2 separate regions of the Homo sapiens genome follow, and region 1 is linked to region 2. The links come from fine-mapping of genetic effects on gene expression. A gene starts in region 2. The other region holds a variant in brackets. All regions are shown on one strand. Distances are from middle to middle.

Region 1 (4,256 bases), 33 kb after region 2:
TTGTTTTGTGCCACTTTTCAAAGGGAATGCTTCCAGCTTTTGCCCTTCAGTATAATGTTGGCTGTGGGTTTGTCATAGATGGCTCTTATTTTGAGGTATGTTCCTTCAATACCTAGTTCGTTGAGAGTTTTTAACATGAAGGGATGTTGAATTTTATGGAAAGCCTTTTCTGCATCTATTGAGATGATCATGTGGTTTTTGTCTAGTTATGTTTATGTGATGAATCACATTTATTGGTTTGTATATGTTAAACTAACCTTGCATCCCAGGGATAGAGCCTACTTGATAGTGGTGGATTAGCTTTTGCTGCTGGATTTGGTTTGCTGGTATTTTGTTGCGGATTTTTCCATCAATGTTCAACAAGAATATTGGCCTGAAGTTTTCTTTTTTGTGTGTGTCTCTGCCATGTTTTGGTATGAAGATGATGCTGGCTTCATAGAATGAGTTGAGGAGGAGTCTCTCCTTCTCAGTTTTTGGGAATAGTTTCAGTAGAAGTGGTATCGGCTCTTCTTTGTATATTTGGTAAAAATTGGCTGTGAATCCATCTGGTCCTGGGCCTTTTTTGATTGGTTGGCTATTTGTTACAGATTCAATTTCAGAGCTTGTTATTAGTCTGTTCAGGGATTCAGTTTCTTCCTAGTTCAGTCTTACGAGGCTGTATGTATCTAGGAATTTGTCCATTTCTTCTAGTCTGGAGGAATAGAGTTGTTCATAGTAGTCTCTGATAGTTATTTGTACTTCTGTAGGGTCAGTAGTAATATCCTCCTTGTCCTTTCTAATTTTGTTTAGTTGGATCTTCTTTATTTTCTTCTTTATTAGTCTAGCTAGCAGTCTATCTTACTAACTTTTTCAAAAAGTCAGCTCCTAGATTCACTGATCTTTTGAATTTTTTGTGTCTCAATTGTCTTCAGTTCAGCTCTGATTTTGCTTATTTATTGTCTTCTGCTAAGCTTGGGGTTGGTTTTCTCTTGCTTCTCTAGTTATTTAGTTATGATAGGCTGGAATACAGTGGTGTGATCTCAGCTCACTAGAACCTCTGTTTCCAGGGTTCAAGCAATTCTCCTGCCTCAGCCTCCTGCGTAACTGGGATCACAGGCATGCACCACCACGCCTGGCTAATTTTTGTATTTTTAGTAGAGACAGTTTCACCATGTTGGCCAGGCTGGTCTCAAACTCATGACCTCAAGTGATCTGCTGTCTTAGCCTCCCAAAATGCTGGGATTACAAGTATGAGCCACTGCACCCAGCCATCTTTCTAACTTTTTGATGTGGGCATTTAGTGCTATAAATTTCCCTCTTAATACTGCCTTAGCTGTGTCCCAGAGATTCTGGTATGTTGTTTTTTTGTTCTCATTAGTTTCAAAGAACTTCTTGATTTCTGCCTTAATTTAATTGTTTACCAAAAGTCATTCAGGAGCATGTTGTTTGATTTCAAAGTAATCGTATGGTTTTGAGCAATTTTGTTAGTCTTGAGTTCTATTTTTATTGCATTGTGGTCTGAGAGAGTGGTTGGTGTAATTTTGGGGTTTTTGCATTTGGTGAGAATTGTTTTATGTCCAAGTGTGTGGTTGATATAGAATGTGTGTTGATGAGAAGAATGTATTTTCTGTTGTTTTTGTATGGACAGTTCTGTAGATGTCCATGAGGTCCATTTGGTCCAGTGTTGAGTTCAGGTCCTGATTATCTTTGTTCATTTTCTGCTTCAATGATCTGTCTAATACTGTTAATGGGGCATTGAAGCCTCCCCCTATTATTGTGTGGGGGTCTAAGTTTCTTTGAAGGTCTCTAGGAACTTGCTCTATGAATCTGGGTGCTCCTGTGTTGGGTGCATATATATTCAGGAGAGCTAGGTCTTCTTGTTGAATTGAACCCTTTACCATTATGGAATGTCCTCTTTGTCTTTTTTGATCTTTGTTGGTTTAAAGTATGTTTTGTATGAAGTTAGGATTACAATTCCTATTTTTTTTTATTTTTGTTCTTGTTTGCTTGGTAAATTTTTCTCCATCCCTTAATTTTGAGCCTATGGGTGTCATTGCATATAATATGGGTTTCTTGACGACAGCATACTATTGTGTCTTGCTTCTTTATCCAGCTTGCCACTCTGTCTCTTTAACTTGGAGCATTTAGTCGATTTACATTCAAAGTTAGTATTGATATGTGTGGATTTGATCCTGTCTTCATGTCATTACCTGTTTATTATGCTGACTTCTTTGTGTGGTTGCTTTATAGTGTCACTGGTCTGTGTACTTAAGAGTGTTTTTATAGTAGCTTGTAATGGTCTTTCCATATTTAGTGCCTCTTTCAGGAGCTCTTTTGAGGGAGGTCTGGTGGTAACAAATTCCCTCAGCATTTGCAATTTCTTATTTCTCCTTTGCTTATGAAGTTTAGTTTGGGCAGACAAGAAATTCTTAGTTGGAATTTATTTTCTCTAAGAATGTTGAATATAGGCCCCAATCTCTTCTGGCTTATAGGGTCTCTGCCAAGAGGTCTGCTGTTAGTTGGATGGGCTTCCCTTTGTAGGTGACCTGGCCTTTCTCTCTAG[T/C]TGCCTTTAAATTTTTTTCTTTCATTTCGACCTTGGAGAATCTGATGATTACGTGTCTAGGGGATGATCTTCTTGTGAAGTATCTTACTGTGTTTCTTTGCATTTCCTGAATTTGAATGTTGGCCTCTCTAGCTAGGTTGGGGAAATTCTCTTGGATGATATCCTGAAATATATGTTCCAAATTGGTACCATTCTCCAAATTGGTACCAGTCTCTCTTTCAGGGACATCAGTGAGTCATAGATTTGGTCTCTTTGCATAATCCCTCATTTCTTGGAGGTTTTGTTTATTCCTTTTCAATATTTTTTCTTTATTCTTGTCTGTCTTCAGAATGTCAGTCTTTAAGCTCTGAGATTCTTTCCTTAGCTTGGTTTATTGTGCTATTAATTACAATTGCATTATGAAGTTCTTGTAGAGTGTTTTTCAGTTCTTTCAGGTTGGTTATATTCTTTCTATACTGGGTACTTTGTCTGCCAGCTCTGTATCATTTAATTGTGATTCTTAGCTTCCTTAGATTGGGTTTCAACATTCTCCTGAACCTCAATGATCATTCCTATCCATATTCTGAATTCTATTTCTGTCATTTCAGCCATCTCAGCCAGGTAAGAACCCTTGCTGGAGAACAAGTACAGTTGTTTGGAGGAATGAAGGCACTCTGGCTTTTTGAGTTGTCAGAGTTATGGTGCTGGTTTTTTCTTATATTTGTGGGCTTTTATTCTTTCCATCTTTGAAGTTGCTGTCTTTTTTGTCTTTATCCTATTTGGTGACCTTGGGGACCTGATTATAGTAGTGTTGGGTTCAGGTGACTGACTTCATTTCTGGAAGATTTTAGGGGGCCAAGCTTCAGCTCAGGACTCCTGGACTGCATGTTCTAACTCTGGGAGACTGGTATTGAGCCCCAACTTTGTTCTCTGGCTCCTCGAGGTTATGAACCTATTGTGCTGGAGGGGCCAAGGTGTTCCCAGACTACTGGTCACAATACTCTAATGGGTGATGCCATCCAAAGCACATCATAGCAGGGTGACAGTGTGATCTGTCCTAATTTGCCTGTGCCAGCTGCAGCAGCAGCAGCAGCATGGTGGGATGCATACTGCATGCTCATCAGCTACAGCAGGGTACTAGTGGGTACTAGGGTGGCAGCCTTCATGGGGCTGTGTGCATGTTCCTCTGGTGGTGGTATTAGTACAGGGTTGGGGCACTGGAGGGTGCAGGACTGTGTGAGGTCTCTGTGCACATTCACACCCACAGCAGTGGCTGGTCAGAGCAAGGGTGGGTTCACTATTCTCCATGACTAGTTATGTGCCAGTGGCAGTGTTGGCACAGAGGCAGGGCACTTGCAGGGGTAGGACTGGCAAGCTCCATGCTCACCACCATCTGACAACAATGGCATTGTGACGGGGGAGGGGAGCAGGGTGCAGTCACCCTGGCAGCAGTGACATGGCAGGGTGCACACACCCACACATACTGGCAGGGAAGGTAAGGCAAAGTCTGCCTTCATACACATACACTGGCACAGTGATGCAGGGGGTGGCTGTGGGCAAGTGCATGCAGTCAAAGTGGCATGGGGGAGGCTGCAGTGGAGGGAGGGCACAGGCAGGCTGGTGTGTGTCCATAGGGGCCACTCTGCTGGAGCACTCTGCTGGTCAGACAAGGTCTGCCAGTCTTCGGATGTCCTAGTCCCTTGGGGGGAGATGTTCCTCCTGGCTGCGTGTAGTT
Region 2 (4,256 bases):
AAATTCAACAACCAAATAGTTGGAGACTTTATTAAATTAAAAGCTCCTAGTACAGCGTTGCAAGCAGTAGGTTTTCAAAATTTGTCAGGTTACTCATTTCTTTACCTACACCACTTTTTTTCTACTTCCTTTCCTTTATTCTATATAATGTGGAGTTCCCATACTAAGTATTTTTTTCCAAACTTTCTACTAGGAAGCCTCATTTGCTATTATTGAGGTTATCTTTTTCCCTTTAATTCCACTGATTTGTAATCTTACCTCTTATTTTATTTTTCTTGAGACAAAAAAAAAAAAAAGTGCAGGGCAGTGGCACAATCATGGCTCTCTGCAACCTCTACCTCTTAGGCTGAAACAATCCTCCCAGCAGCCTGTGTAGTAGTTGGCACCACAGGCGAGCGCCACTAGGCCCGGCTAATTTTTGTATTTTTTGTAGAGACGGGGTTTCCCCATGTTGGCCAGGCTGGTCTGGAACTCCTGACCTCAGCGATCTGCTGGCCTGGGCCAAAGCACTGGGATTACAGGCATGAGCCATGGCACCTGGCCAACTCTTATTTCTGAATTATGTTTGAATCCTTTCTTTTTCTCATTTTACATTACGTTCCTATCACTTTTTAAAATCCAAGATAAATATTTTAAAGCAAAAACAACTATTATTTTAAATATTTGTTATTTTCAGATATTAGGACTACTGTTAGAATGCTGGCTTGACCCAAAATAAGGTCTGTTCTTAAAAGGACTCTTTCAAAACAGATGACTCATCAGTTTTAAAAAGCATTCCACCATTAGCTTAAACATACAAAGTACGTCCTTCTAGGACTACCACTCAATCAGAAATTAAAGTTTGACTGCAGAGTAAAGGCATAGTTTCTCATACAAATAAATGACTGGCAAGAAAAAAACGACTTTCCTTTTTTAAGGAGGAAAGCAATTTAATGTCGTTGATTATACACGACCACTTAACTTTCTTATGTATAAGCTTTGTTAAAAAAAAAAAAAGCTAAGCATTTTTTCTCATTTCTATTCATTACTTTTCAAAATCATAAAATGTAATTTCAGAAAAGATTGAGTTTGGGACAAGGATGAAAAATACGTTAATTAGAATTACTAAATTAGTACCAGATCAGGATTTTCCCAAACTGTAGTTTTGACCTGCAGTACAAACTCTATGCTTTGAGTTTTTAAACTAACTCATTAATTTGAGCTATCTCAAATCATGCAACCGCCTCCATATCTCCCAAATTCACTCCTAGACACAACTTACACCAAAAGCCACGTATGTGCTTCTACAATTAAAACGGGCAAAACGTCCTTACTTGATACACATTTCTGCCTTAAAAAAGAAAAAAATAATTCTGTGGGGCAAGTAGTGCGGGTGTTACCCATATTTTATGCATGGGGCAACTGAAATCAAATCCCTGCCCTAGGCTATTTAACAGCGGAACCTCCAGTAAGGGTCCGGGGGTTCTGAGGTCTAGTCCAGCTGCGTTCACATTTCGAGGTCGGCTTTGTTAATCCTCGGACTTTAAATTCCTGCGGTTTTCTGTCATGGAGCTAAATCACCACTAAATTACTGTGTGCTCACAGAGTCCTGCAGACACGGGCCCCACTTTTAAACTGAAAAACAAGCGGGGGACGGGGGGGGCACGTGACGCGCGAACCCTCAAGGCGAGATAACCGAACATCCTTGGGCTGTTTGCCGAGGCAGTCTTGTAGCCCTGGAATAGGTCACCAGGCTCCAGCGACTATAAAGCGCGGCCGCCGAAACCCGGTCCGGCTCAGATGACAATTTGGCAGCCTCTGGGTGTCTGCCTCAGTTCTGCGCAGCCCATGCTGCGCTCTTGCCACTCCGCGCCCCGCGCCTCGTGAGGCAGAGCCCGCCCCGGAGCGGCGCGCGCACCCCAGGACTCGCGTCGCGTGACTCGGCCAAGGCGCGCAGGGTTTGCGCCCGCCCGCGCCACTTCCGACTCAGCCCTCGGTTCAGGTTCCGGGGCGCCGCAGAGCTCCCGGCCTCTGGACCGCGCGCGGCGCTCTGGGGAATCCGGCGCCACGCGCCGTGCGGTGGCCAGGATGGAGGAGGCCGGAGCAGCGGTGGTCACGGCCGGGGAGGCCGAACTGAACTGGTCCCGCCTCAGCGTGTCCACCGAGACGCTGGAGTCTGAGCTGGAGGCGCGGGGGGAGGAGCGGCGCGGGGCGCGGGAGGCGCTGCTGCGGCTGCTGCTGCCTCACAACCGTCTGGTGTCGCTGCCACGGGCGCTGGGCAGCGGCTTCCCGCACCTCCAGCTGCTGGACGTGAGCGGCAACGCGTTGACCGCGCTCGGGCCGGAGCTGCTCGCTCTGCGCGGCCTGCGCACGCTGCTGGCCAAGAACAACCGGCTCGGCGGGCCCAGTGCGCTGCCCAAGGGCCTGGCCCAGTCGCCGCTCTGCCGCAGCCTCCAGGTGCTCAACCTCAGCGGCAACTGTTTCCAGGAGGTGCCTGCCTCGCTCTTAGAGCTGCGCGCGCTGCAGACCCTGAGCCTGGGCGGCAACCAACTGCAGAGCATCCCGGCTGAGATCGAGAACTTGCAGAGGTGAGCGGGTGTGTGCCGGAGGGTGGGGAGGCCTCGGGCGGTGTCCGGGAACCCTGGGGCGCCGGGCCTGGGCACCTCAACGTTTGTCACGTAACTATTTCCAAGCTTTCTCTTTAACTGTGCGGTAGTGAGTTCTGCCCAACCATCTCAGCAAGTTGTTGTAAATACCTAGTATGTTCGCATGTGTGACTGTTTGGTGTGTTGTGTTTGGCCTATGCAGATTCTCGAGGCATTTTTTCTGTCTTCCTTATTGAATCTGGGGCGTGATCCAAACTGAGTGGAAACTCAAAACAGATGTAAATCAGAGGTTGTCACTTCTTTGCTCAAAAGTCTTCCGTGGATTTCCATCTCTATAGATCAAAGTACGTGCCTTTGAGCGTGGCGTACAAGGTGCTCTGATCTAACCCTTGCTTTCCACTACATTTGCAGCTTCCTCTTCTCTGTGGCAGTACCAACTACCATTTGTGGAGTTCAGTGACCTATGCATTTTCCCACGTAGAGAAAGCAGCTTGGAGTTGCTGGTAGGCACTCAGTATGTGTTGAATGGATGCAGTGCCTCTGTACACGTGCTGTTTCCCTTGCTTGGAATGTTTCCTTCACCTGGCAAACGCCTATCATCCTTCAAAAGCTATCTCAAGTTAATCATCTCTGTGATTCCTTTTTTACTACTCCCTGCACAACAATTTTTTTCGTTACTACTCCCTGCACAAAAAAGTACAGCCTATGCTGTACTTTCTCTGTGCTTCATTCATCTTGCCTTTGCATTTACCTTATTGGATATGATTCCTTGTTTACAGGAATTATCTGCTTCACCTACTAGATTATGCAGTAAATATGTTAAATTTAACTTTAGGAGGAAGCAGAGAAACAGGATAATAAAAGTGCCCGGTGGGGGAGTGGGAAATAGAGCCAAATGTATTGTACAAAACGAAAAAGAGGTATCTTCCATCTGTAAGATATTTTCACACTTTATTGTATTTTCAGAGATAACAGAACGTTAAAGGTAGAAGGGACCTCAGAGTTAAGTGGAGCAAAAGAATATTGGCCTGGGAAGGCCGGGCGCGGTGGCTCACGCCTGTAATCCCAGCACTTTGGGAGGCCAAGGCAGGTGGATCATGAGGTCAGGAGATCGAGACCATCCTGGCTAACAAGGTGAAACCCCGTCTCTACTAAAAATACAAAAAATTAGCCGGGCGCGGTGGCGGGCGCCTGTAGTCCCAGCTACTCGGGAGGCTGAGGCAGGAGAATGGCGTGAACCCGGGAAGCGGAGCTTGCAGTGAGCCGAGATTGCGCCACTGCAGTCCGCAGTCCGGCCTGGGCGACAGAGCGAGACTCTGTCTCAAAAAAAAAAAAAAAAAAAAAAAGAATATTGGCCTGGGAAAAAAGAACTCTTGGTGCTCCAGCCTTAGGCAAGTCACTTGTATCCTAACTGTAGCGTATCCTAACTGTAGCTTTCTAATCTACAAATGAAGCATTTGGGCAAGATGTCTCTTCATTTACTCTTCAATAGATATTTATTGAATACCTGCCCTGTGTCAGGCACTGTCCCAAGTATTGGGGATACAATGGTGAACATGATCCAGGAGACAGACATTAAACAACTAACTATGAACCTCATTATTTAATTACAGTGGTTATGAGTTCTATGAAGACCTACAGAATGCCTTGAGACAAAATGACAGAGGCACA

Evidence for each region. PIP is the estimated chance that this variant, and not a neighbour inherited with it, causes the effect.
Region 1: its variant is the best candidate, but not a certain one, in a credible set for the expression of LRRC58 in whole blood (INTERVAL, PIP 0.70).

What each region holds. Positions count from the first base shown.
Region 1 is chr3:120,313,597-120,317,852 of GRCh38, reverse strand. No RefSeq gene overlaps it. Among named protein-coding and RNA genes, the nearest start is that of GPR156, 31 kb to the right of the region's middle. RefSeq lists an enhancer at 3,901-4,256. The variant T/C (reference allele first, on the strand shown) is at 2,543.
Region 2 is chr3:120,347,055-120,351,310 of GRCh38, reverse strand. LRRC58 (leucine rich repeat containing 58) reads left to right here and starts at 1,957. Exons shown (of 4, transcript NM_001099678.2): 1 at 1,957-2,567. The coding sequence starts at 2,068. It also overlaps the pseudogene BTNL12P. RefSeq lists a silencer at 1,962-2,291 and an enhancer at 2,642-2,691.